Linked DNA regions of Homo sapiens: regions 2 and 3 are each linked to region 1. Evidence: fine-mapped expression QTL. A gene starts in region 1. Each other region holds a variant in brackets. All regions are shown on one strand. Distances are between the middles of the regions.

Region 1 (9,978 bases):
TTGAAAGCTTAGGATTTCTCATAAATGGTGTGAACACACACATCACTAGAGAGTCTACTGAAACAGTATTTTCTCTTCTCCTTGATTCATTCGCCTGCCATGAGCATGCATCTCTCTAGGTCAAAGCAGGGATACTTGTTTTCTACCTCAAGGCTTCCTGTTCCTACGAAAATCCTTGTTAAAGCCTATTTTACAGACCAATACAAGCTTCATATTAAAAAAAAAATAAGAAAAAAAAACTCATCCAGTTGGCATTCTTCTGAAAGACTTTGAGAAATTAAATGCATTTACAGGTGAGGCTGTTTGGCTGTCCACATTCTTCGGCAATGAATCATGAGCAAGAGTCACTTGATAATACAGTGATGTCCTTCATCAGTGTCAAAATACTTCCTCCCCTATCACTCTATCATATCAAAAATATCATACCAACAGACCTTTAAAAACTGCAGAATGGCTTGTGGAAGCAGAGAAAGGAATGAGAATTGGGCCAGACGTTAAAACAAACAGCTAGCTCTACAAATACACTGTCTGCAACCACATCTAAGAGATCTGAGTGGATAAGAGCAGGATGCACACGCTTAAGACAGAAAGTCCATCAAATTCAACTTTCCTGGCTATTCTGGGCCATTCTGTGTTTGACTTTCTTGAAGGCGTGGTCAAGGTATACCAGGCTCTCTATAAGTAAGCACCACACTCATATTTTAAGCAGTATTATGCACACCTCAGATGTCAAGGGCTAGCTTTACCATTTTTGCCTTAGCCTCATATTACTCATTCCCAGAGTTGATAATTTTTCTTAAAGCAAACTCACTGCTTTACTTAATATTTATTTTTGCCTCATTCTAAGCAATCTAGCCATGAAATAAATGGATGTGGTAGCTGGTTTTCTGTTTTTATTCCTAACATATAATATTCATGCATCATAATTGAAAAATAGAATATGTATCTCTCTGCACCACCTGTAAGTCTGTCTGTATACCAGACTTTGGAAAGCACTGTTTTGGGATAGCATAAAAGGTAGAGAAAATGCTTTATTAAATGATTAGGTATTTTGGGGGTATGATAGTCCTTACTCTGTCTCCTCTGAGAGCTCACAGGTTATCTAGGATGATGAAGCTTTGGTTGTTTAATGGCCAGCTGGATGATAGAGACACCAATCCCTTTAAAAAACAGAATGGAGCCGTCACTGTTATGGGTAGCCATTGCCCCAGCTTGTGCAGGTCTTCTGGGGCTCTAGCTGTCAGTCACCCAGTTCTAAGAAGTGCTTTTCCTAATCAAATGGAAAAAGTGGAAGCAGACACTCTCCAACTCGGAACTCTGCCTCTCACACTACAATGTATGCAGCATACTAGCTCAACTGCTTTCCTAGGTACCATCCAAAATTAAAACTAGTGGCCGGGCACGGTGGCTCACTTCTGTAATCCCAGCTACTTTGAAGGCTGAAGCAAGAGAACCGCTTGAACCCGGGAGGCAGAGGTTGCAGTGAGCCAAGACCGCACCACCACACTTCAGCCTGGGCAACAGAGCAAGACTCCATCTCCAAAAAAAAAACCAAAAAAACAAAAATAAAATTAAAACTAGCTACTGCAATACTGCATATTGGATTTCCATGCCTGAATTTTTTTTTCCATTGCTATCACACAGCCTTTTCAAAAAGTTTAATAGTAATACCACCTTAGACCCTCCCAAATTCACTTTCTATATGGGCATCTACTAAAAAGGCTGATTGCAAAAATTCCTATGAGGGAGAAACAGGCCCTAAATAGCTTTTTAAACCTTAACAAAGTTCACATAACCATTGATGTGTTTAACCCACTAAATGGGTGTTAAATCTAACCTCTGAGTCTGTGTTTCTGACCCTAACCCTTGGATTTAGGATCAAGACAAAAACTCAGTAAAACACCAGAGAAAACTGTTCTGCTTCCCTCCACTCCCATCTGGGGCAATCTCACCCTCAGACACTACCATATACCAAATCACCTTCTCTGGAAAATCAAGGCTGGTTGGTCCAACAACTGTTGGGCCCCTGATTACTGCTTAGAGTCAAATCAATGAGGCATGTTATTGGGAATCAGCTCTCAACCTAGATAAATTCATCTGTAGCCACAACTGCTTAATGGGATTCGTTCTAGAGATGAGGCAAGGAATTCCCTGGTGGCTCATATTGTTGGTAGAATATGTTGAAAGTTTCAGCAGTGATTGCGAACCCTTCTACCGCTTCACCCCGCCCCCACCACACCCAAACTTCATGCCTCTCCCCAACCAAGTCTGCATGACTTTTTAAATTACTATTTATATTACTACACATATTATTGTACACAGGACTAAAGTGGCCCCGCCTAGTTTCAATAACTTGTGTCTCGTAAAAAGATAACCTTCTTAAGGAGAGAAAACCTTGCTAAACTCAAAATCTCCCTTGCCTTCAGCAGTATGCAGAAAGTTCTCACACTTGTCCTGAAGAGAAATGGTTGGCTGTGAACTTTTGTCAGTGTACAAAGAACTAGATCAAAAGTTAAATGTAGGCAGAAGTCATTGCAAATGCAATTCCCCCGGGGGTGATGTAAAAATTCATTGGTCTTAAGCCTATGAATGCCTCAAAAATAGTTATGGGGTGGGATGTTTACTGGGAAACTGGTTCGCTTCTTTTGTAGGGAAAGTCAAGTCATTTAATACATGAGGGATTTCTGACTTCCCCCCACCCAAAGCTTCGTTATGGCCTTCAAGGCCTTTTAACAGAGTGTGAACAACAACTCTTTCAGTTTTTTCCTGGACACCTACCTGGCACCTCCTACTTGTATCTTTAGATCTCACCTCCCTTATCAACCCAGGACCCAACACTTAAGAGTTTTCAGCACCCGTTTTGTTCCTATTACTAGCTACCACCATTTACGTAGCATCCACCACATGCCTTGTACTCTCTGTCATTTCATTCAGACCTCACTCAGCCCGGTGAGGTGGGCGCATTACTGGCCCCATTTTCTATAGTGGCTTGCTCGGGTGAGGTAACTGTTCAAATGCCCTTTATTCCCAGCAAGAATCCCCTGAAGGGAATGCATATAGGACCAATCCCACTCTTTGCTAAATTTCTGTATTGCAGAGTGTGCATCGGCATCATACATTCCCTCCCTCAGTCTCAGGAATCCCGACACAGATTGCAGAGTAAAGTCTAACAGTTTCAGGTCCACTAGACCCCTAAATGCAGAAATTGAATCTTGTTCATCTTTGTATCCCCCACAGTGACTGGCAGGAGTAGGGGCTCATTCAGTATTATAATATCTGGATGGTACTGAAAAAGTTACAGCAGCATTTCAGAGGGGAAAGTTCCCCTTCATCAATCTGCATAAGTAGCTCTGAAAAGAAATAAAGTGGCCCCACTGCAGAAGTAGTTCTGAAAAAAACACAAGAAACACCTCAAAAGCCACCGGTGCTTTAGTAAAGCACCTCCGCTTCTGCCATCTCCCCACAATGAGGAAGCTCCAGTACCCTGTCCACATTTCTAAATGGCACTCATCGGATTCTTAATGAGTTGCAGGCTTTCCCAACGGGACTGTGTGACAGAGCCACGCTCTTGCTCATCTGCGTAATCCCCACACTGAAGTGGAGTTGTTCATGAAAACTTACTAAATAATCAAATTTCATCCTCTCAAGCAGGATATGCAGTGGTACTTTGCTACAAATACATTTACCACTACGAATTTCTCACTTCAAGCGATCTCCTGCCCAGGTGTGTGCTCTCAGAAAATTACATCTCTTTCTGAATTACGCTGGCAAAGGTGGACCTGTTTTCCCAAAAGGACCGTCAGCACACCCAGCACAGACCACCTGGGGAGCTGAAGAAAACGACCTCCCTCCCTCCTCCCCGCTGGGATTCCCCGGGCTGAGAGCGTGAGTGAGAAGCGCAAGGCAGTTTCTATCATGGGATGACTCTCCGCTGGGAACTTCAGGGAAACCACAACCATCATTACTCAGGCCAGACAGCTGCCAGAAAAGCAGCCTAGCCTAAGAACTGAAGCTGAAATAGAGGTGGGAGGCTGTATTCCATTACTAAGCGCGGGAGCACTCACTCCCAAGTTTGTCCACATTTCAAGAATGTTAAAACCCTGTGGTAGAAATCCCTGATTATTTATAACTTAAACTACCGTGTAAAAGCAGAAACTTGACAAATGAAGACATAAAAAGAACTGGTGACAGGTAGGCTAGTACTAGAATACAAAGCATTCATCACACTCCTCTTTTGTGGGTCCTTCCAAACCTCCATCCCCATTCCCTACTGGAAAAAAAAAAAAAAAAAAACAACTTTTACTTCTATTACAGACGCAGCTGATTGAAAGGGAAAAGGGATTCTGCTCTGTGATGAGTTTTCAGTTTCTCTCACGTACACAAGCCTGTAACTTTGCATCAATACCGAGTGTGGTTTGAAATAGAGAAGGAAAACACAAAGACATGCAAGCGACACAACAGACACGAGATGCCTCCAAGCCAGCAGAAATCCAGGACACCGGGTTCAAGACAGTGTCCCCTACTCGCGCCTTAATCTCCAGCCCAAGTGACTTCAGAGTAAAGGTTCCAGGAGCCCCGGAGGCCACGAGTCATCAGCCCGGACGGTGAAACCTACCCCTCCCCTGCGTCCCACGTCCGGATGGGAGAATCCCAGCTTCCTACGGCGCATCGGGGAACAACTTCAGAGCAGCACGCGAGCAGAGCCCCCAGCGCTCCCACGCTCACGCTCACGACCCTCCTCCCAACCGCGCGGCACAAGGAGGCACTTACGCGGAGCCAACCTGACAGCTCCCGCCGGGGTGGAAACCCGCGGTCTCCTCGCACCGGCATTTCGGACACAGGTCCCGCGTAGGCGCGCAGCTCCGGACCCCGCTTCTGCTTCTGCTCCTGCTCCTACTCCTCCTGGGCACCACCGGACAGTGCTCTGACCCGCAGCCCAACCGCCGGGGTGCCGACCCGCGGGGACCCACCCCTTTGTCCCTCCTCCCGCGGCGGCGGCGGCGTCAGCCCGCCCCCGACCCGAGCGTGGCGCCTCCGCGCTGGCCGCCCGGCCCGGGAAACTGTCAAATTGGCCGCTACCACCCACGCGCCTGCCGGGGAAGGGCTCGCCGGCGCCGCGCCTTCGAGGCTCCTGCGGCGAACCGCGTCACGCGCGACTCCTGGCCGGGGGCGGGAGGCGGCGGCGGCGGCAGGAGAAGCCCAAGGCCCGAGCGGCCCGCAGCCCCCACGCCTGCACCCCTCCACCCCCGCCAGCCCGATGGTTCGCTCCGCGGCGTGCACTGGAGCAAGCAGGTCCCGCTCCGAGCGCGCGCGCTCTGGGAAGTGCTGCAAGTTTGGAGACCTGGAGTGAGCTCCGGGCGCTGCTGGCCCGACTGTCCGCGGTGTTTCCCCGGTGAGGTCGCGGGGGCATCCTGTAGGAAGACTTTTTGGCGAGGTTCGCAGGGCCTCACACAGGCAGCTTCAGTTCTCCTACGAAGAGTCGAACTGGGAAAACCTCAAAGTTTTAGGTCCTGTCTAGAGGCCTGCCCGGCTAACCAACACATACACGGCCTTGTACCCCACATTTCTCAGCCCAACAACTGCCTACCCGAATTCCGAGGGTTATAAGATGTTCGTATTAAATATTAAAACAGGACTTTTCAGGACAATATATTCCAGGTTATCTCTTTGGCACATTTCCAACAACTCCAATAAAGAGATTGAAACTCCTCTCCCATCATCAGCTTATAAAAGGTTGCCAGTAGGTCACAAGTGCTTATCTGACAGGATTCATCTAATGCAATTCAGTGTGCTTATTCCTTTCGAAGTCCTCCATGTGCAAAGAATTGTGCAGTGACGTTAAGTGTCTTTATTTTAAGAGCATATAAATTAATTTGGAGAATCCAAACAGGTACCGATTAAAAATATAACCTTGGGTTTGAAATCTTAAAAAACCATCTTGTAAGAGAATAGTTTTGCCTGCCCTGCTCTTCCCTTAATTGGAAAGCAAAACTCGTCCTAGGCTCACAAGTAGAAGGTAAAAGGTGTGGTCTGTCCCAGAGGAGATGCAGATGCTGGGCTCTCTCCCTGAAAAGTTGCTTCACTTCCTGCCTGATCAAAACAAGTCTAGAAGTTTCGTGGAAAAACAAGTCCAGTAGATGCCTCTCCAGAAGTGTTATGCTTCTGGACTCCTTTGGAGTAACTAAGTCCACGCCTCTGGATAAAAAGCACTGTGAGTAACGTTTCCCACTTTGCCTCGAGTCTCCGGACTTAGACATTTTGGTTGTATTCCTGATGTAAGGCATTGCTCTCCTGATCTAAGCACCTATTTATAAAATGTTTCCCAAATCTGGCCAGGCACGGTGGCTCATGCCTGTAATCCCAGCACTTTGGGAAGGCAAGGCAGGAGAATCACTTGAGCCCACGAGTTTGAGACCAGTCTGGGCAACATAGTGAGACCCCATCTCTATTTTTTAAAAATTGTTTTAATCAAAAAAAAGGAAAAAAAAATAAAATATTTCCCAAATTAGGTGGTGCTGACTAATAAAAATGATAGCACTTGAAAGGTGGCCACACCTTAATGATGTGGGCTTAGAGCCACTAACATTTAAAAAATAATCCAGAATGTGGCAGTTACATCTACTGACTGATTTCCTTTTTTCTCTCTAGAGCGGCACTGTTCAATAAGATGACCACTTGCCACCAGTAAGTGTTTACATTTACATGTAAATTAACTAAAATTAGAGGAAATGACAAATTCAGTTCTTCAGTCACACTTGTCTCATTTCAAGGGCTCAGAAGCCACATGTGGCTAATAGCTACCCTATTGGACAGTGCAAATATAGAATATTTCCATCAATGCAGAAAGTTCTGTTGGACTGCACTACTCGAAATGATGAAATATTTATAGACAAACTCCATTCTTCTGGCACAACACCTGACAGATGATAAGCATTCAGTAAATGGTTGTTAGAAACACGGTTCAGTTGATATATTAGCTTTTTTGCTGGTGGCAGTGTAAATCAATACAACTCTTTGGAGAAACAATTTATTAGTCATCTTCTTCACGTGTGGGTTTGCACATTTTGACCCCACTCCTAGAATGTGTTTATCCAAAGAACTTCTACTCCGCAGGGCGCGGTGGCTCATGCCTGTAATCCCAGCACTTTGGGAGGTCGAGGCGGACAGATCGCGAGGTCAAGAAATCAAGACCATCCTGGCCAACATGGTGAGACCCCGTCTCTACTAAAAATAACAAAAATTAGCTGGGCGTGGTGGCGCACGCCTGTAGTCCCAGCTGTTCAGGAGGCTGAGGCAGGAGAATCGCTTGAACCCAAGAGGCGGAGGTTACAGTGAGACGAGATTGCACCACTGCACTCCAGCCTGGTGACAGAGCGAGATTCCGTCTCAAAAAAAAAAAAAAAAAAAAAAAAATTCTTCTACTCAACAGGTACTTACTGAACACCTCTGTCAACCCCTTGATAAAATACTCAGGATCCTGCCTTAGGAAACTCAGTCTATTGCAGTAGACAATCAACAAGTAATGATAAACTGTGTAAGCACTGAGATTCCTGGCAGGCTCAGAGTGGTCTAGCAGGAGAGACTTAGGGAAGGCTTTCCAGAGATGGGGTTGCTTATACATTCTAAAGGAGAGGTCGGAATGAGTTTTTAAGACACAAAGAAGGAAAAAAGCCTTCCAGGTAAGGGGAATAAATAACACAGAGAGAAGTAAGGAAGGAAGAGACAGCAGGCTTACTCTTGAGGTGCCAGAAGGTGAAGTTGCCCAGGCAAGTATAAAGATGGATTTGACAGTTGGTGGGGGACAGGGGTTGGTGGGGGAGGAGAATGTTAGTAAGAATGACAAGACCGGCCAAAAATGCATTTTTGTGGGAATGCAGGTGAGAGATGACGTGGCTATGAAGTTAGGCAGTGTTAGACAAAAGGGAGCCAGATTCTAGAGAAACTAAGGAAGTAGATCAGCAGGCTGGATGACTGCCTGACTAGATATGGGGAGACGCGAGCGGGAAGTGAGCCTACGCTGACTCTCAGGTTTCTGGCTTACTTAAAGGAGATGACGGTGGCTTTTATCAAAACAGAACACAGGAGTGGGAGCAGATCTTGGGAGGAGCTTGAAGAAAGATGATGAGTTTAGTTACAGACTGATTTTCAAGTGCTATGGGTCATCCAGGTGAAGATGTTCAGTAATTTAACAAATATGTATCAAGTGTCTCCTATGTGCTAGGCACTGATGAGTATTTGAGGAGAGAGATTTGGGAGTGATTTGGGTATCATCAATGTATCATAAAAGTTGAAGTCTTGGGAGGGGACAATCCCACATTCAGAGACGTGATGTAGATTAAGCCAAGAGAGGACTAAGGACAGGACTCATCTCTGGGAATGCCAATATTTAGGGGGCAGACTTGAGTTGCCAGAACAGAGACCAAAGAGGAGCTGCCAGAAAGGAAAGAAAACGCTTCTGGAGGAGAGTGTCCAAAAAGCCAAGGAAAGAACAAACTTCAGGAAAGAGGGAGAGGCCAACAACATGGAATTTCGAGGAGGTCAATTAAGGTAAGAACTGATGATGTTCATTAAGTGGAGGACCACTGCTTATCTTGGCCAGAGCTTTTCAATGGAAAGATACGACTGGAGGTTAGATTACAGTGGATGACTAGGTATGAGGCAGCACTTCACTATATGCCTGTATCTAATAATGAATGATGGAAACCACCAATGTCCAATGATGGTGGGCTGGGCTATTAAATTACAGTAAATCAACATAATTGGCATAGCAGACCATCATTTAAAATTGTAATAAGGAAGTCTATACAACAAGGAGAATGATAATGCTATAATTATCAACAAAAAAACACAAATTACATCTAATGTATGATGATGACAGTGATAAAATTATAAAAAAAATAAAAACTGGAAAGTATGCAAAAAAATGACTTCATGAAAAGACAGGCTTGTGCATATATTTTTCTTTTTAAATTTAGTTATTGTTTGTGCAATGGACAATTTTTTTCAACTTTTCAGTGTATATTACAATATATAAGGTCTCTGAAATAGGTTGGTCAGCTAGGTGCAGGGGCTCATGCTTGTAATCCCAGCACTTTGGGAGGCTAGACAGGAGGATTGCTTGAGCCTAGGGATTTGAGTCCAGCCTGGACAACATAGTGAGATTCTGTCTCTACAAAAACTAATAATAAAATAAAATTACCTGGGCATGGTAGCATGTGCCTGTAGTCCCAGCTACTCGAGGACTGAGGGGAGAGGATTGCTTGAGCCCAGGAATTTGAGGCTGCAGTAAGCTATGACTGCACCACTATACTGCAGCCTAGGTGACAGAGAGAGACACTGTCTCAAAAAATAAGAAATAAGTTGGTCAGAAGACCTTAATGAGATAAACTAAATGCCTTTTAGTCATATTTTCTCAAGAATGTGGAGATCTTAAGAAACATATCTGTGTGTGTGTATATATATATATGTATATATCTGCAATATGGTTATAAAGTATCATCAACTGGGAGCAAAGAAAACTAACACTGAAAAGTTTACAAGTTCAGCCGGGTACGGTGGCTCACGCCTGTAATCCCAAAACTTTGGGAGGCCGAGGCGGATGGATCAACTGAGATCAGGAGTTCGAGACCACCCTGACTAACATGGTGAAACCCCGTCTCTACTAAAAATACAAAAAAATTAGCTGGCATGGTAGCAGGCGCCTGTAGTCCCAGCTACTTGGGAGACTGAGGCAGGAGAATCACTTGAACTTGGGAGGTGGGGGTTTCAGTAAGCCGAGATCACGCCACTGCACTCCAGCCTGGGCGACAAGAGTGAAACTCCATCCCCCCCCCAAAAAAAAAAAAAAAGAGAAAAGTTTACAGGTTCACCAAACAATTTAGTTAACGTGTACACTGTAAAGTAGACTGGAATCGTAACTCTCCTTTAACAAACCTTTCTTGAATGCCTACCATATACCCTGGGGTAGCTATACAGAAG
Region 2 (9,978 bases), 86 kb after region 1:
GTTGGCCAGGCTGCTCTCGAACTCCTAGCCTCAAGTGATCCACCTGCATTGGCCTCCAAAAGTGCTGGGATTACAGGTGTGAGCCACCAGGCCTGGCCCATGAATCACATTTATAAAAAATGTTTAAATATAAAGCTAAAAAAAGGCCTCTCCCTAAACTTTACCTTCTCTTCCAGGTCAACGGTATTTATTTATTTAGAGCTACCAATATCAAAGCTCTTCTCAACTGGAAACATACAATTATAAAATCTTAGAATTCAACACAAGTTTGGAAATGTTAAAAATGGCCATTTTAAGGCCCCAACATCCTTTTTCCTAATAACTACATAACAGAAATACAGATGCTTCACACCCTTCTTTGGACTTACACACCTAGATCTAAGCCTTACAAACAATTGTACTTGTCACAATAATTTATGGAGAATCTGCAGTGACTTATTGAACGTTGGCACAGTGCTTAGCCCACCATATCTATGGCATAAATAAAATAACTTCTAGGTTGCTCCCTAGCAGCAATAACACCACTTTTCTCTTCCATTAGAGAAACTGTAGAGGAATTTGAGAGACTGAGTGAATCTTCACTAGATCCAGCAGCAGCGCAGAGGCCTCCCTCTCTCAACCAGGCACAGGCATGAAGATGTTCTTGTCAGAGGCGTGTGAACCAGAGCAACTTTATCTTAAATAGGAGCTGGGTAAAATAAGGCTGAAACCTACTGGGCTGCATTCCCAGACAGTTAAGGCATTCTAAGTCACAGGATGAGACAGGAGGTGGGCATAGAATATGGGTCATAAAGACCTTGCTGATAAAACAACAAGCCGGTGTTGGAGCCGGCCAAAACCTACCAACACTAAGATGGCCACGAGAGTGACCTCTGGTCATCCTCACTACTACGCCCCCACCAGCGCCATGACAGTTTACAAATGCCATGGCAACGTCAGGAAGTTACCCTATATGGTCTAAAAAGGGAGGCATGAATAATCCACCCCTTGTTTAGCATATCATCAAGGAATAACCATAAAAATGGGCAACAGCAGCCCTCGGGGCTGCTCTGTCTATGGAGTAGCCATTCTTTTATTTCTCTACTTTCTTAATAAACTTGCTTTCACTTTACTGTATGGACTCGCCCTGAATTCTTTCTTGTGCGAGATCCAAGAACCCTCTCTTAGGGTGTGGATCGGGACCCCTTTCCGGTAACACTCCGACAGCACCCTCCCTCCCTAACTCTCTAACTCACTCATCACTCTCCCAGTTCATCCTACTCACTGCCTGTAGCCAGATGATCTGCTTAAAATGTTCAGCTACTAGGTGGAATGATCTCCAACCTATATGGTACAGTAAAACAACAACAACAAAACCCAAGCAGTTTGTACTATGTACTGCCTTTTTTTTTTTTTTTTTTTTTTTGAGATGGAGTTTTGCTCTTGTTGCCTAGGCTGGAGTGCAATGGCTCCACCTCAGCTCACTGTAACCTCCGTCTGGGTTTAAGTGATTCTCCCGCCTCAGCCTCCTGATAGCTGGGATGAGGCGCCCACCACCACACCTGGCTAATTTTTTTTTTTTTTTTGTATTTTTAGTAGAAATGGGGTTTCACCATGTTGGCCAGGCTGGTCTCGAACTCGTGGCCTCAGATGATCCACCCGCCTCGGCCTCCCAAAGTGCTGGGATTACAGGTGTGAGCCACCACGCCTGGCCTATGTACTGCCTTTTATAATTTAAAAAGCAGTCTTATGTATGTTTATACAAAGGCAGCCTCTATAAGCATATAGTACACACTATGACCATAACTCTTTCCACAATGCATTTTATTGATATACTTTTCTATTTCTTTTCTATCTCTGTATTTCACTAGACCATGAATTCCTTGAGGGGAGGGAATGTGTTTGTTAACCATTGTATCCTAGCACGTGGCCTGGTTCAAAATAGGCAATCAGTAACGGTTGAATATATGAATTATTAAATAATGGCAAAAATACAGTCCTTCACAGTTTCCTTGTCCCAGTTAAATTTACTAAGCCAATTCTTTAATATAAACACAGGTCCATCAAGGGTGTGTGCCACTTCCTACCATTTTAAGTATTTTTTTTAATCAGGAAGAGCCAGAGGCAAAAGTCATGAAATTAACCACATGCGAGCATGCACACGCACAAACACACACACACATACACAGATAGGCGCAAACATCTAATTAGGAAAACCAAAACAAAACCAATTTACAAGCCTTGGCTCATCATCTCAATAGCTACTTGCACTAATCCTATAATTTATGTCTACTAAACACTGTTATTTTCCTTCTCTGGGCATTAGGCAACTTGGGAAAGGATTCCAGAAAAAATTCAACACTACTGACACTCATGATTATTAATATTATTAATACTGTTTATTTTTTTAATGGCCAGTCTTCTAAATGCTTGTATCCAACCTTAGAGAAGAATGTATTTTATAGGATTGCAGCCAAATGCAGCCCTGAACGCTATCTACTGGGAGTCTTCAGCCTTCCCAGTACTAACCTGACTTCCCAAAGCCCCTGGAGATCTCCCTTCTTTCCAAGGGGAGCCTTGGGATTCCTTCTTTTTTCACATCTCCTTGTCACTGAGACACCCCTGGAGCAGGACAAGGGAAGTGTCCACCTATTCTACCTTCCTCCTTTCTCAGGCCAAGTGTCATTTTCGGAGGGCGGGGGCAGGGAGTGGGGGGAAGGAGAGGAGGGGAGGGGTACGGGAAAGGGATGTAGTGGAGGGAGAGTTAATGCCTGGTTCTGCCTTCCTCCCTCCCCCAACCCAGCGGATTTCCTTCCCAGGGCAGTAGCCAGTGGCTCCAGGAAATAATTACCCTTATCAGCCCCCACTCTGAACAGTAAGAAAGGAAAGGTCTCAATTCTTCCCTGAAAAGGAAGGGAATCTCAGTCTACTTTTTGGTTTTTCAAATAACCTGTCTTAGCACCTCTAGGGCTCATCCTAACATCCCCAGGGCTCTTGATTTCTCTCCTGATGCAGTTCTTGGATCTTAGTTTACATAAGAATGCCCCAGTGGAGTCAAGGATGCAGCTTTTTCTTCTGCCCTGGAGTTTATCAGGGCTTTGTATGGTTAAATGACACTCTTTGGGGGTCTGATGAGTTTCTACCTTTTTGTACCACTTACACTTTTTACCTTGGGCATGGAGTGGTCCTGACAAATCTTTCTGAAACTCTGGTGAAAAATTCTAAGTGAGAGAAGGGGAGCCAGAACAGAAGCTGGGGTTTTCCTCCTGAGTGGTGAGGGGGCAGTGAACCACAAAGATGAAGACTGGATCTGGTGTGAAGGGATGGGGGCTGAGCTCCATTTACGTTCCAATGAGCATCTAGAAAGGTGTTTGTTTTACTGGGATGTTTTTATGGCACCCTGCAATATTTTAATTTTTCCCTTATTCATTCTTTTCTAAAATCCTTGGAAGATCCCACTAGGGCTGTTCTTGCCTTTAGAACTGTGAGACTAGTGAAGCAGAGAAGCTTCTCTAGGAGCAAATAGCAGGGTAGAACACCCCCACCTCCACCCTGACCCATCCAGACGCTGCTAACACAGAGCGGGAGGCCGGGTTGAACGTCCCCCTCCCTATTCCTCCTTTCAGGGTCGGGCACACACCTGGCTGGGATAAAGGAGTCAGGTCATTTGAAAGGCTCATCTCTCTATTACCAGGGGAGGGCGTCCAGGTTCCTGGCGTCTTGAACAAAGAATTAGATAAAATGCACAAAGCACAAAGAAAGCAAGGAAGGAATGAAGGGATTTATTGAAAATGAAAGTACACTCCACAGTGTGGGAGCGGGCCCGAGCATAGGGGCTCAAAGGCCCTGTTACAGAATTTTTGGGAGTTTAAATACCCTCTAGACGATTCCATTGGTTACTTAGGATACGTCCTATGTAAATGAAGAGGATGAAGTAAAGTTACAGGCATACGCCCTATGGAGAGGATATTTCCTGTCATAGCTGAAGTGTGAATCGGCTTATGTTTTCTGCCTCCAGACCCTATTTTCCTGCCTCATCTCTTTCTTTCTTCCATTCCCTGTGCCACACAGAAGGGTTCCTTTGGATTTCCAGGGACTGTCAGAGGTGTCCTAACCAGAGTGACTCCATCTTGAATAAAGGCCGAATAAAGCCAAACCTGCTGGGTTACATTCCCCAGGAACTGGGCACTCTTGGTCATGAGATGTTTATGATTGAGGGAATGAGTTAATGTTGCTAACTAAAGACTCAGAACTTATGGAAATGTCCCAGTATTTTAAGAACAAAAAGCATTCTTAAGGAATAGGTTTTGCCTTAAATATAATAGTGTACTCATAAATTCTTGCTGAAATCAATAGTAACAGGAAAATAACAGTACCAATAGCCTGTCACAAGCTGATCACAAGCCTTTGTAATAAAGTACACAATTCTTATACAACCTACATAAGCAAGCACTACATTTAAGGTAGCGCCTTCCTCCTCTTGTTTTCTGAGGATGCCCTACTCTGTAATTGAGTAGCCTCTAATTAACTATCTTAACTTCATTATACTCTGCGACTTACCCTGAATTCTTTCCCAGGCAAGATCCAAGAACACTCTTGGGGTCTGGAACAAGACCCCCTTTCTGGCGTCAGGACTGGGCACCAGATCTGGAAGAAGCAGGACTCAGGCCGGGTGCGTTGGCTCATGCCTGTAATCCCAACACTTTGGGAGGCCAAGGCGGGCGGATCACCTGAGGTCAGGAGTTCAAGACCAGCCCAGCCAACATGGCGAAACCCCGTCTCTACTAAAAATATAAAAATTAGTCGCCGGCCGGGCGCGGTGGCTCACGCCTGTAATCCCAGCACTTTGGGAGGCCGAGGCGGGTGGATCATGAGGTCAGGAGATCGAGACCATCCTGGCTAACAAGGTGAAACCCCGTCTCTACTAAAAATACAAAAAATTAGCCAGGCGCGGTGGCGGGTGCCTGTAGTCCCAGCTACTCGGGAGGCTGAGGCAGGAGAATGGCGTGAACCCGGGAAGCGGAGCTTGCAGTGAGCCGAGATTGTGCCACTGCAGTCCGCAGTCCGGCCTGGGCGACAGAGTGAGACTCCGTCTCAAAAAAAAAAAAAAAAAAAAAAATTAGTCGCCGGGTGCGGTGGCTCATGCCTGTAATCCCAGCACTTTGGAAGGCCGAGGCGGCCGGATCACGAGGTCAGGAGATAGAGACCATCCTGGCTAACATTGTGAAACCCCGTCTCTACTAAAAATACAAAAAAATTAGCCAGTCATGATGGTGGGTACCTGTAGTCCCAGCTACCCAGGAGCCTGAGGCAGGAGAATCACTGGAACCCAGAAGGCAGAGGCTGAAGTGAGCCGAGATCGTGCCACTGCAATCCAGCCTGGGCAACAGAACAAGACTCTGAGAAGAAGAAGGAGAAGGAGAAGGAGAAGAAGAAGAAGAAGGACTCTGCAGG[T/G]GGCACACAAAATTAGATGAAAAGAATAAGGGGACCTTAAAGGGGGAAGAAAAAAATGGGAAGTCCAAATGGAGAAAGATTCCTTAGATAATAGCTAGGTGATGTTATGAGGGGTCCTTGAGGGTCTAGAACAGGTCTCTCCTGCCAAGGGGAGAAGCAGGATGGATTGCGGAGAGCTAGTAGGCCAGGAGAGTGCAGTGGTTCTCTTTAAAGAAAAATCTCAGGACCCTTTATATTCTTGAGTTATAGAGGACTCCATAGAGCTTTTGTTTGTGTGTTATATCTATCCTTTTAATCATATTTAAAATTAAAACTGAGAAATTTTGAAAATGTTCATCTGTTCATTAATTTAGAAATAATAGCTGGGTGTGGTGACTCATGCCTGTGGTCCCAGCACTTTGGAAGGCTGAGGCAAGAGGATCACTTGAGCTCAGGAGTTCGAGATCAACCTGGGCAATGTAGCAAAACCCTATCTCTACAAAAAATACAAAAAAAAAAAAAATTAGCCAGGCATGGTTGCATGCACTTGTACTCCCAACTACTCAGGAGGCTGAGATGGAGGATCGCTTGAGCCTGGGAGTGCGAGACTACAGTGAGCCGTGATCATGCCACTGTATTCCAGCCTGGGGGACAGAGTGGGACCTTGTCTCAAAAAAGAAAAGAAAAAAGACATAACAATCATAAACTCACTTGTTTATATGGTTAAAAGAAAACCTTAGACAAATTAAATTTAACCGAGTTTAATTGAACAGTTTGAGAATTGGGCAGCCTCCTCAGCCAGAGTAGGTTCAGAGACTCCAGCACAGCCACGTGGTGGAAGAACATTTATGGACAGAGACAGAAAAGTGGCGTACAGAAAACAGAAGTGAGGTATAGAAACAGCCAGATTGTTTACAGCTCAATATTTGCCTTATTTGAAAGCAGTGTCAAGAGTTGACCTCCTTTGATTGGCCAAAATCCAATGTTTGTCACAAGAGTAGTTCACAGTCTTGTTTACACATCTGGGTAGGCTACAATTCACTAAGTACAGAGAAACCTTTAGGTCAAGCTTAAACTATATAAGGAGGCAGCTTTAGGCTAAATTTGATTTAACAATATTAATGACATATTTATGATAAATAACTATACTTTTGAAACAAAACATATTTGGTGTGAAGAATGGGATCATTGCAGGACTTTTCCTTAGTTCAGCTAAAGAGAAGGTTCTTGTCTATCCCACAGCCACAAAAATTTAGGCTTGCAGATGGTTTAAAGGGTGAGTAAAGCAGGGTTTTATTAAGTGAAAAGGGGAAATAAAGGGATGAGGGGAACAGGGATCCTCTGCAAGGCCAGAGTCTCCTGCTACAGTGCTTCCCACCAGGCTGCTAGAATCCCAGGTTCACATAGGAAGAGGAGGCGCCAGGCTCCTCCCTGCTGCAAACTCCCAAGGCTCCACCCTAGTAGGCAGGCTGGTTGGAGTTTCTCCAGGGACCCCCTCCCACCTGGCTGTCAAATAATTATTTTAGAGTTTTATAAAACTCTGAGAAATAAAAATGAAATCCTAAGTCCCCCAGCTGACTAAACGGATGCACCACCTCTTGGCCAAGGGGACCCCAGAGAAACCTTGAAAACTGAGTTCTTGCCATGATGTGTTGTTATACCCTCTCCATTGCTAAACGCCATTAGGATTTCCTTCCTACAGGTTAAACAGAAACCAGCCCTTTGGAAAGACGAGCTGCACCGCTGATATCAACCAATGGTCTGACACTGCCCCTTCCTTTTGCAGTTTCTGCACAACTAACCAGCATTCCTTCCTGATAACAGACTGCCCACAATGGAGTGGTTCTGGCCAGTTTACAGAGGATGTGCAGTGAGGGTTTCTGTGTCCTCTGTTTCACCTTTTGATATCAGAGGACAGAAAACTCCACCCTCTGATCATGCTAATGCTGCCATTTTTTGCACACGCGTCCCATGGAGAGGCATGAAGCTCAATTGAGCATGTGCATGTTTCTCCTTTCATGAATATTCATGACTGTAGTTTATTGAATATGTATATTTGGCCATCCTATTCAGCATAAATGCCCATCTTATTCTTCTGACCCTCAGTGTCTGTTTTTGGCTTCTGGCCAGAGACTACATTTCTTAGCCTGTCAGAATGGCCACCCTGCAGGCTGCAATCTTTTATGAGAAATGAAGCTTTTCTTTCCAAATTTATGAATCTCAGAATTCTTCAGCTGACAATTGTAATGTTTGGCTTAATAGAAAACAGCTGGATTCTTCTACTTGCCTCTTCATTCCATCTGTTGCAATATGTTGTTTTCATTGGAGTATATGAAGAAAACCCAGCTTAAAGAGTTATGTAGTTGGAAAAAGGAGAACATTACATATCTCTGAAGAGATCTGGGGGACCCAGATGTTCACTTTTTTTTTTTTTTTTTTTTTGAGACAGAATCTTGCTTTGTTACCCAGGCTGGAGTGCAGTGGCATGATCTTGGCTCACTTCAACCTCCACCTCACGGGCTCAAGTGATTCTCCTGCCTCAGCCTCCTGAGTAGCTGGGATTACAGGTGTGCGCCACCACGCCCAGCTAATTTTTGTATTTTTAGTAGAGACGAGGTTTCACCATGTTGGCCAGGCTGGTCTCAAACTCCTGACCTCAAGTGAACCACCCGCCTCAGCCTCCCAAAGTGCTGGGATTACAGGCATGAGTCGCCTCTTCACTTTGAAAGCTGTTGGGATGAAGAAGCTCTTCTCATACTCTAGCAACTCCATATGACATCTGTAATGATGGGTGAAAATGTGTAACTGAAACTTAATGCATAAATAATATTTTATAAATTTGTATTCAGTGAGCTATCAATAAAATGTTTTCTTTTTAAAGTTTTGAATTTATTGTTTATAATTTACCAAATAATAAACATATGTTGTTTAGCAAGTTGTTTTTTTGTTTTTGTTTTTGTTTTTTTTTTTGAGACAGAGTGTTGCTCTGCTGCCCAGGCTGGAGTACAGTGGCACTATCTCAGCTCACTGCAACCTCTGCCTCCCAGATTCAAGCAATTCTCCTGCCTCAGCTTCCTGAGTAGCTGGGACTACAGGCACATGCTACCATGCCCATCTAACTTTTGAATTTTTAGTAGAGACGGAGTTTCACCATGTTGACCAGGCTGGTCTCGAACTCCTGACCTCAGGTGATCCACCCACCTCAGCCTCCCAAAGTGCTAGGATTACAGGTGTGAGCTACTGCGCCCAGCCCATTGTTTAGCAAGTACTACAAGGCTTGTTTACAAATGTCAAAAGACAAAATTACAATGAATTTAGTTAAATGATCTAATTGGCTTTCATTTGCAATTCATGGATCAGGGCAGCCTGTCTTCTAAAAATTCAGAGAAGGTACTCCAGTGAGCTGGGCAGAGGAAGTTAGCTTTATAGGCAGAAAAGGCAGAAGAAAACAGAAACAGGGACCAAAAAGTGGACGGTCTTTTCAAAGTTACTCTCCTAATACGGTTAAAACAGAGAGGACTTCCTTATATGCCAGCTAAAACTGGCCTGTTTGGGGATTTGTCTATTATTTCTCTCCCCTAATTTCCCAGAAGGTAAGATAAACTACTTAGCTTTGGTTTGGTGACGTGGAACTTTAGCAAGAGTGACTCCATGTGGTTTGGTCTATTGGGGCCTAGTGCAGGAGCACAGTCCAAATCAATGGCTTCCTACAAATTTTATTTGACATAAATAATAACAGTTCTCCCCTCCTCATGGGCAACCATTTTCAATTTTTCTAGCTGATTATTTTGAGATTTCCCTTAACATATCTAAATAAAATGAGTTTTCAGGCCAGGTGCAATGGCTCATGTCTGTAATCCCAGCACTTTGGGGGGCCAAGGCGGACTGATCATCTGAGGTCAGGAGTTCGAGACCAGCCTGGCCAACATGGCGAAACCCCATCTCTACTAAAAATACAAAAATTAGCCAGACATCATAGTGTGCAACTGTAGTCCCAAATACTGAAGAGGCTGAGGCAGGAGAATCTCTTGAACCTGGGAGGCAGAGGTTGCAGTGAGCTGAGATCGTGCCACTGTACTCCAGCCTGGGCGACAGAGCGAGACCCCATCTCAAAAAAAAAAAAAAAAGTTTGAGTTTTTGGTTCATATTAGGAATTATCAGTCTCCTTCCCACTCTAGATGATGAGATTTTGTTTCCTTAACCATTTTTCTCCCCATTTTCTGGCCATAAACATTCACATTCCTCCAAATGTTTTAAACTGGATTGTTGGTCAAATCACTATTTAGCATTTTCATTATAATAATGATGAAAACAATACCCACTGTTGCATTGTGTAACATAACAGGACGTTTCCTATCCTGTACAATGCCTCGTGTTTCCTAGTGTTATTAATTGCTTTTCTGTTTTGTTTTCTTTTTCCTTTGTTTTTTATTACATCACATTTTTTTAATGTTGAGGCTAGTTTTATTACAGAATGTCCCTTCACCATGTAGGAAAGGAAAAATTTCTGTTCTACCCTCTTAAGTTTCCAGCTAGGCCTAAGAATTAAACTGACACAGGAAAGAT
Region 3 (9,978 bases), 160 kb after region 1:
TACAATATTCTGCTAATAAGGAGAAAACAAACTATTAATAGAAGCTGGCTTGTCAAAATCCAGGTATGATAAGTATTTCTGGACCAGAACATGCAGTGTTATGTAAATAATTCCCTGAGTGATAGAGATTTGTAGTTTATTTCTTATTTGAATCCTGGTGGAGTTTGTTCTTTTCTTTGCTCCCATCAATATTTTGGAGATAGAGAGGAAGTTAGAATTGAATGATCCAAGCCTTATGCAATTAGCCATTTGGAAACTGCTATATAAACAGTAAAGAGGAGAATCAGCTGGCATGACTGCCAGTGAGCAGTTTTTTGGGAGAAGAATGGTCTTGATTGCCTTTCATTGGGCATACAGGAAAGCAGAGTTGGCTTTCACCTCTTCATTTGGCCCCCTAGGCAAGCTCCAAGCAGATCATGCAGAGGTATTGTATCTTGCTACACAAATCTTTTCCTTCTGAAAGGGTTTATCTGAATGCAAAAGGATTCCTGTTTCCTTGGCATGCTAAGGACTCCCTTGCTCCCCAAGGCCATGGAGAAAAGCAGAACGGAAAGTGGAGAGAAATAACAAATGTAATTATTCTGCAGCTTGTTCTGGGATAAATACTTGATGTTCTGACCTGTAAACGAAGCATGGGGACATTTCTAGTGTGCAGCATATGTTCCCTCTAGACCCCTGTGTCTTCCTAATTGAACTTCAGAGATTAATGCCACAAGAATTTGTCATGGAATGGCACAGCCTGCTTCTAAACAAACTGTCCCACTTCCAAGGCGTCGGTCCAAGAGAATGGCTTCCCACTAATTGCTCTTTGTGTATAAATTTCTACTGAATAATCTGGAGGTAAGTCAGAAATGGGCAGAATTTTAGCAGATCTACTGTGATGAAAATGAAGAGGAAATCACTGAGATTATGGGGGAGACGTGGAATTTCCATCTGCCAGGGATTTGCCTTGACCCAAAGCACAAGGGGCAATTGACCCCCCTGCTATGTTCTTGAGGGAATGTGGGTTTCCCTTTTGTGGAAGTTCAGATGATCAACAGTAGATTTTTCTCCTTTCCTCTTCTTCCTCTCTAACCTGACCGTCTCTGAATATACAGTCAGTACCCAAGTACTGGCCCCAGATTAAACCGTAAACTCGGAACCAGGCCTTGCACACAATAGACACCTGCTTGACCAACATCTGCTGAACTGAGCGGCAAGAATTCACAGTCACAATAGAAACCTTCTACTTGGAGTCAAGTAATCAGGGATTCCTCTCCAATTTGCTTGGTTTCAGCCTGCAGGGCTAGGTGAAAGTGTGTTGTTTACTTGCACTAGCTACAGGCGGTGTAGCCAGGGTGGGTAGGCAGAATTAGCTGTCAAACTTAAAGGGCAAGATGGAGAGAAAATAGGAGGATAAATGGGTATTCCTGTAGCTCAGTGTTTATGATGTAGGACAGAATCTTTGTACAGAATTGACTGGGGAGAGCAGCTCAGAACCCACCCTGTGATGGCTGAGTGCTGGCAGTCTTCTGGAGGGTGTGTGGGGCGGCTGACATGGTGGCCTGGGGGAGTGATGGAAGGCCCATCATCTATGTACTTTGACTTCTCATAAACTCCTGTGGCATGTTTTTAATAATTGATAGAATAAGTAAACAGAAAGTCAATAAGAATATAGAAGACCTGAACACTACTACTAGCCAACTTGACCTAAGTGACATTTGTAGAACACTGTATCCTCAAACAGCAGAATACACCAGAATATACATTCTTCTCAAGTGCATATGGGCCATCTACCAAGATAGATCATATTCTGGGCCATAAAATGAGCCCCAAGAAGTGTAAAACATTTTAGGTCACACAGAGTATGTTTTCTAACAATGGAATTAAATCAGAAATCAATAGGAAAATTCTTGAAAAATCCCCAAGTATTTGGAAACGAAATAATATACTTTTAAATAGCTTATCTGTCAAAGAAGATGAAAAGGGAGCTTAGAAAATATTTTGAGCTGGATGAAAAGGAAAATACAACATACCAAAATTTGTGGGATGCTGCAAAAAATAATACTTAGGAGGAAATTTATAGCACTAAGTGATTGTAATAGAAGAAAGATTTCAAATCAGTGACCTTAGTTCCCACCTTAGGAAATAAGAGCAATTAAACCCAAAGCAAACAGAAGAAAGGAAATCATATGTATGTGTTAAAATAAAACATTACATGCAGTAAAACTGAATTTTGGGGGGAAGTATACAGTTCTTTGAGGTGTTTGTTTGTTTGTTTGTTTGTTTTTGAGATGGAGTTTCACTCTTATTGCCCAGGCTGGTGTGCAGTGGCACGATCTCTGCTCACTGCAACCTCTGCCTCCCAGGTTCAAGCAATTCTCCTGCCTCAGCCTCCCGAGTAGCTGGGATTACAGGCATGCGCCACCACGCCTGGCTAATTTTTTTGTATTTTTAGTAGAGACGGGGTTTCACTATGGTGGTCAGGCTGGTTTCGAACTCCTGACCTTGTGATCCGCCCGCCTCGGCCTCCCAAAGTGTTGGGATTACAGGCTTTAGCCACTGCGCCCGGCCAGTTCTATGAGTTTTAAAACAAATGTAGACCACCACCCAATACATTGTAACCACCAGCACAATCAGGATACAAACATGTCCCACCACTTCCCACATTCCCTCAGGCTGTCCCTTCATAGTCCAACCGTCCCCTAACCCCAAGCCCTGGCAATCACTGATCTGTTCTCTCACACTATAGTTTTGCCTTTTCTGGAATGTCATAGAAATGGATTCATACAGTAAGTCTCCTTTAGAGTTGGCTTCTCTCACTTGCATAATGCCTTTTGGATTTATCCATATTGTTGAGTGCAGCGGCGTGATCTTGGCTCACTGAAGCCTTGACCTCCCAGGCTCAAGAAATCCTCCCATCTCAGCCTCCCATGTAGCTGGGAATATAAGCGGAGGCCGGGCGGGGGTCGCAGCGCCGCAGCCAGCGCAGCCAGCCCCAGGGGGCGCCATCTCCGCCGCTGCCGCCGCCGCCGCCGCCGCCGCGAGACCCCCGCCCCTGCCGCCGCCACCGCCATGGGCAACGCCCCCGCCAAGAAGGACACCGAGCAGGAGGAGAGCGTGAACGAGTTCCTAGCCAAAGCCAGAGGAGATTTCCTCTACAGATGGGGAAACCCCGCTCAAAACACCGCCAGCTCGGATCAGTTCGAACGGCTCAGGACGCTGGGCATGGGCTCCTTCGGGCGGGTGATGCTGGTGAGGCACCAGGAGACCGGCGGCCACTACGCCATGAAGATCCTCAACAAGCAGAAGGTGGTGAAGATGAAGCAGGTCGAGCACATACTGAACGAGAAGCGCATCCTGCAGGCGATCGACTTTCCGTTCCTCGTCAAGCTCCAGTTCTCCTTTAAGGACAACTCCTACCTGTACCTGGTGATGGAGTACGTGCCGGGTGGGGAGATGTTCTCCCGCCTACAGCGCGTCGGAAGGTTTAGCGAGCCCCATGCCTGTTTCTATGCCGCCCAGGTCGTCCTGGCCGTCCAGTACCTACACTCGCTCGACCTCATCCACCGCGACCTGAAGCCCGAGAATCTCCTCATCGACCAGCAGGGCTACCTGCAGGTGACGGACTTCGGTTTCGCCAAGCGCGTGAAGGGCCGCACTTGGACCTTGTGCGGGACCCCAGAGTACCTGGCCCCCGAGATCATCCTGAGCAAAGGCTACAACAAGGCCGTGGACTGGTGGGCCCTAGGGGTGCTCATCTATGAGATGGCCGTGGGCTTCCCACCCTTCTACGCCGACCAGCCCATCCAGATCTACGAGAAGATCGTCTCTGGGAGGGTGCGGTTTCCCTCCAAACTCAGCTCTGACCTCAAG[C/G]ATCTGCTGCGGAGCCTGCTGCAGGTGGACCTCACCAAGCGCTTCGGAAACCTCAGGAACGGGGTTGGCGACATCAAGAACCACAAGTGGTTCGCCACAACCAGCTGGATCGCCATCTATGAGAAGAAGGTGGAAGCTCCCTTCATCCCGAAGTACACAGGCCCTGGGGATGCCAGTAACTTTGACGACTACGAGGAGGAAGAGCTCCGGATCTCCATCAATGAGAAGTGTGCCAAGGAGTTTTCTGAGTTTTAGGGGTGTGCTTGTGCCCCTGTGGGTTTTCTTTCCTTTTTGTTTTTGGTGGTTTGGGGGATGGGAGGGTTGGATTGAACAGCCAGAGGGCCCCAGAGTTCCTTGTATCTAATTTCATCCTCACCCCACCCTCCAGGGTTGGGGGAGCAGGAAGCCCAGATATTTGGAGGAACAGAAACACCAGCTGCTCCCTCACCCCCCCCCATGCCTTCCTGGTCCCTCTGTGCTTCTCTCTTTCTCCTCCCACAGGGTCCCCCTTGCCCCAGCCCCCTTCTGCCTGTTTTAAACGAGTTTCTCAGCTCTATTCAGGCCAGGTCTTGCTGTTGTATCAAGGGACACGGTGTGGAAAGAGGGGCTCAAACTTAACTCCAGCCCTGAACAGGCACCACTTACTAAGAGAGGATGAATGAAAAGCACACCTACCCTTTGGCGTAATCCTGCCTGGGAAGGAGAGAGGTTTAGTGCCATGTTCAGTGGGCTGTTTGCTAGAATAAAAAATTAAAACAAAAAACAATTAAAATCTTATTTAAGTTCCACCAGTGTCCCCTTTCCTCCTTCCTCTACTTCCACCCCTCCCACCCTTCCCACCTTACCGTGTCTCCCCATTCCATTTTAACAAATCCAGGAAGCCGACTGACTTTGGAAGGAGGCTCTGGGGTTTGAACTTCCCCCATGAACTGCTGATTTCCCCCTCCCCCCTCCCCAGGGGCATCCTCTATCACTCTTGCAAAGGTCTCAGTTCTTTTAGGAAGCTCCACTCTCTTCTTCCCCAGCAGACTTTTCTTCACCCTTGGGCTTTGGGAGCCAGAAAAGCAGCTGCCCTACTCCCTGCCAAAGAGGAGTTGTCCCCCAAAAAGACAGAGTGGGAGTTCCAAGCCCAAGTCTTTCTTCACAGCAGCATTTCCCCGAAACTCCTTAATTTTATTCTCAGCCAGATTGTGATGCCCAGCCTCTCCTTATGGGAAGGCAGTCCTGCAAAAGGACATGGAAGAGGCCCAGCCCCTCCACCCCCACCTCATCGCCCAGGGTTCAAGGCTAGGGTTGCTGGGGAGGGGCTGCCTGTTTTATTCACCCAGCAGCTTCTGCCTTCTCCCATCCTGGGTGCCCCTCTCCAGCTTAGCTGTCAGCCATCCTTCACCTCTTCTCCCCTGCCACCCCGTGCTGTTTTCAATTTTTTTTTTTTTTTGACATGAAGTCTCACTCTGTCACCCAGGCTGGAGTGCAGTGGTACAATCTCAGCTCACTGCAACCTCCGCCTCCCGGGTTCAAGCGACTCTCCTGCCTCAGCCTCCCGAGTAGCTGGGATTACAGGGGCCCACTACCATCCCCGGCTAATTATTGTATTTTTAGTAGAGACGAGGTTTTGCCACATTGGCCAGGCTGGCCTTGAACTCCTGACCTCAGGTGATCCAGCTGCCTTGGCCTCCCAAAGTGCTGGGATTATAGGAGTGAGCCACCGTCCCTGGTCTGTTTTCTTTCTTAATAGAAAAGTGAGGAGCTGCTGGCAAGCCACCTCATTCATCTTCATATTTCCCCCTCTCATCACTTCTCCCCATCCCAGGAGGAGCTCTCAGGCCTGGGGTGGGTCCCCAGGTGGGCTCAGGGTGATTCAACCTGCTTGCTGTGAAAAGATGAGATTTCCTCTTGAACAGTGTGCTGTTGTAAACATATGTCAAAACTATTACCAATAAGGCCGGGTGCTGTAATCCCAGCACTTTGGGAGGCCAAGGCAAGTGGATCACTTGATGTCAGGAGTTTGAGAACAGCCTGGCTAACATTGCAAAACCTCGTCTCTACTAAAAAATACAAAAATAGCTGGGCGTAGTGGCATGCACCTGTAATCCCAGCTACTTGGGAGACTGAGGCAGGAGAATCGCTTGAACCTGGGAGGCAGAGGTTGCAGTGAGCCGAGATCGCATCACTGCACTCCAGCCTGGGTGACAGAGTGAGACTCTGTCTCAATACAACAAAACAAAAAACCAACTATTACCAATAAAGTTTTGTTAAAAAAGAACTGGCAAAACTAATCTATGATGCTGGAAGTCATAATAGTGACCTTTGAGGATGGCATTGGTGGAGAGGGGACATGAAAGAGCCAGCAGGTGGCCAGGCACGGTGGCTCACGCCTGTAATCCCAGCACTTTGGGAGGCCAAGGCGGGCGGATTACGAGGTCAGGAGTTCAAGACCAGCCTGGCCAACATGGTGAAACCCTGTCTCTATTAAAAACACAAAAAATTAGCCAGGCATGGTGGCAGCTGCCTGTAATCCCAGCTACTCGGGAGGCTGAGGCAGGGGAATTGCTTAAACCCGGGATGCAGAGGTTGCAGTGAGCTGAGACTGCACCACCGCACTCCAGCCTGGGCGACAGAGCGAGACTCTGTCTCAAAAAAAAAAAAAAAAAAAAAGCCAGTAGGTTAGCTGCAAATGTTTTCTATGCGCTTTAGGTGCTGGGCACATGGGTCTACACATATGTAAAAATTCACTGGACTATACAATTCATAGCTGTGCACTCTAGCATATGTAAGTTATACCTCAGTCATTAAAAAACGGTTGAAAATGTTGAGGTTTTTTGAGACAGGTGAGACAACACAGGCAGGCCACGGGTGATTCAAGTGGGGATAGAGTTTTGAGGATCACAGCCTCATGGTATTGAAACGGCTTTTGAGTTAGGTCTTAAAATAAAGGTTCTTAACATTTCTTGGGTCCAGGTCACTGTGAATTTGATAAAAAGTATAGTCTTTCTCTTCATGAAAAAAAAAACACCCCATATACACAAAAGCATACCCAACTTGTGTATATGATTTCATGGCCCTATTAACATTTATCTATGACTCTTCTAGAAATCAGTGGGTCCTAGGCTAAGAACCCTGCTTAAATGGGTAGATTTACAAATGGGAGGGGGGAAGAGTGGGATTCACCTATGAAAACCCATGTAGTAAGGGAGAGTGGTAGCACATATGAATACTAGAGAGAGGCAGAGGATCCTCAATCATCCACTTCTGCAGAATTCCCTGTTGACATCCTAACCTAGGATGTAAGACATCCTAGCTTTCCAGCACTGACTCTGCAGGTGAAACTGCTACTTATGCTGAGTAACTATGGCTCTGGGCTACATTTACAAAAGTTTACAGCATGCTTGCTTACAAGAATCAGCTTGTTTTAACTCGAAGTATTTAACACTGAGCATCTTACTCATCAGGAATATCTTTCTGCAGCCTTGATCATTTTGCTTTCTAATGATTTTTCTCTCAACCTCTTATGTCTCTGTTGCTAGGGACACTTACCAGGTGGTGTAAACTGTATTAATTAATTAAAATATTCATTGCTGAGTCCATTCCCATGTGAGAAGTGTACATCCCACACCTTTGACTCCAGACCTGTCAATGTCACTCATGTTGGTGGATGGAATGCAAGTAGAAATGCTGTCAGCTGCACTGAGACAGAAGCTTTGTGAGCTCTCATTGGTTCCACCATTGCTCTTTTTCTCTGCCATGAAAGTTGCCTGTCCCACATAGGGGCTGCTCTGGACCCCAGAATGAAGAAGACTCTTGGAGCAGAGCTGCAGCTGGTCCCCACATGTGAGGGAGACGTAAAACTATGTTGGTGAAAGCTCCTATGATGTTGGGATTGTTTGTTACCATAGCATAACATAGTGAAAGCTGACTAATATACCAGGACATTTGGGAAAGTCTTTGGATGAGTTCAGCAGAAGCTGCTATTGAAGTTTTTCCCATTTTTATCCATCATGAAATTCAGTTTATTTAGGATTTCTGAATATCTCAAATGAGGAGTATTTGGGTTATTTTTAATAAAAGAAGAAATGGAAAGACCATAAATCACTGGAATCGATGTACCACCACAATTGAGAACAAAATATTTTATTTCTCTCACAAAACTATAGTTTACAGTAGTATTTACTAAATAAATTATATAATTTCTCTTTTACAAGCAATAAACTAGATCACAAATATTTCAAAGACAATGTATGTACACGACATAAGGCCTTTTATAAATAGCTTTGCTTTTCTCATTTCACTAGTAAACAGTGAAAAAATCTTTATAGAAGCTAGTTTTCTATAAAGTGAAGGCAGACCTAGTATATTGATCTTTAAATGAAACCAATTTAAACTTTCAATGACATGAACTATAATTTTGCAAAAGAATTTATACTTAATTTACCATGTGTGTGGATGGATTTTTAAAAATATATAAGCAGATTACATATGTTGCTTATGTATAATCACTGGATGCATGCACAATGAAATAATGCAAAAGTCCATAGGAAAATAGCACTTCCAACTCCAAAAAGGTGATTGGCAATGGTACAGAAAGCAGCTTAAATATAGTTCATGCAGTTCTTCACAGTTCAGCAAGCAACAGCAAATGATAGAATAGGGTAGTATTTTTCACATCCCATCTGCTGATCAGCCTGAAGTTGACATCTTGAAAACTCTTAAGTCAGGTTGATGATTTCTCTGTGTGTAGTGGGGCTCAGCCAAGTTGCTGTGGATAATTCTGGTGCGGAGAAACTTCTCTGCCATAACTGTGCTCACGTCTCATCCATGTGCTTAGGTGATCACCATTTTCACTTACTGGGGGGAGCAAAAAAGCAGGTGTGAGACTAGATTTTGGCATCAATTTGTAACCTCTCCCCATGAGTCGCAACATAAGTTCGTTATTTCTCCCAATCACTTGTGTCTGGAAAATGGGGTGCATTATGTTTGGGATTCTTCTGCAATGATCAGCATAGCATATACTTCTTTGGTGGACCTGAAACCTGTTAATTACACCAATGTTTATCAAGATTGAGTCCTGACTACATCACAGCACTGTGCTCGGGACTTGGAAGGAAGCAACACTGACTAAGACACCCTCCTGCCCTCCAAGTGCACAGGGATGAGGGGATGTGCTGTGGTATATTAGATCTGAAGCCAAAAAGAACAACTTGAACATGGCCTTGAACTTGTAAATGTTTTTTTCCAAACAATATCACTGTGGCTGGGTGGTAACAATATGTTCAGCAAATGGTAGCTATTTAAATGGTAGCTATTTAAAATCAGAGCCAGCTAACTCAACCTGTGACAGCAGCACTATGATATATGTGGGGAAAGCAATATTATATTCAGCCTTTAGAGACAGACACATTGGGTCAAATCATCTGATTTCCTATTTTTTTTTTTTTTAGATGGAGTCTCACTCTGTTGCCCAGGCTGGAGTGCAGTGGCAAGATCTCAGCTCACCGCAACCTCTGCCTCCCACGTACATGAGATTCTCCTGCCTCAGCCTCCCGAGTAGCTGGGACTACAGCTGCCTGCCATCACGCCTGGCTAATTTTTTGTATTTTTAGTAGAGATGGGGTTTCACTGTGTTAGCCAGGATGGTCTTGAACTCCTGACCTAGTGATCCGCCCACCTTGGCCTCCCAAAGTGCTGGGATTACAGGCGTGAGCCACCTCACCCGGCCTGATTTCCTAATTATTTCATCTGTAGAATATTATGCAACATCTTCTTGGAACCTTGTTGTTTCATCTATAAAGTGGAGGTAACAAACTCTACTTTATAGGGTGGTGGTGAGGGATAAATTTTTCCATGGGGAAAATGAAGTGTTTTACACACACACGATATACACAAATCATATATTTATAATTGAGTACTGTACCTGGCATGTGCTAGTACCCCCAAAATTGTAGTGAAGAAGGTTGGAGCTGGGGGTCACAGAGACTGGTGCAGCTCAGCACCTTTAATTGGAGGCTTGAAAAAACTTGAGTAAAAAGTTTGAAATAACTGAAAATTATTAGGAAAGAGAACATGTCACATACAGGGAATTCTGTTTAACAATTAATATTTTATCTGAGACTATTGTGCACTGTA

The links. PIP is the estimated chance that this variant, and not a neighbour inherited with it, causes the effect.
Region 2: its variant is fine-mapped to the expression of TJP2 in whole blood (TOPMed, PIP 0.99).
Region 3: its variant is fine-mapped to the expression of TJP2 in whole blood (TOPMed, PIP above 0.99).

What each region holds. Positions count from the first base shown.
Region 1 is chr9:69,169,225-69,179,202 of GRCh38, reverse strand. TJP2 (tight junction protein 2) reads right to left here and starts at 4,926. Exons shown (of 23, transcript NM_004817.4): 1 at 4,771-4,926. The coding sequence starts at 4,830. LOC124902175 (a long non-coding RNA gene) reads left to right here and starts at 7,606. Exons shown (of 2, transcript XR_007061566.1): 1 at 7,606-8,547. RefSeq lists an enhancer at 3,828-4,017 and a silencer at 4,908-5,337.
Region 2 is chr9:69,083,361-69,093,338 of GRCh38, reverse strand. No RefSeq gene overlaps it. Among named protein-coding and RNA genes, the nearest start is that of FXN, 53 kb to the right of the region's middle. RefSeq lists enhancers at 2,125-3,094, 4,372-4,872. The variant T/G (reference allele first, on the strand shown) is at 5,434.
Region 3 is chr9:69,007,169-69,017,146 of GRCh38, reverse strand. PRKACG (protein kinase cAMP-activated catalytic subunit gamma) reads left to right here and starts at 3,034. Exons shown (of 1, transcript NM_002732.4): 1 at 3,034-4,643. The coding sequence starts at 3,055. The coding sequence ends at 4,110. It overlaps PIP5K1B (phosphatidylinositol-4-phosphate 5-kinase type 1 beta), which reads right to left. Exons shown (of 16, transcript NM_003558.4): 16 at 7,971-8,700. The coding sequence ends at 8,698. The variant C/G (reference allele first, on the strand shown) is at 3,856.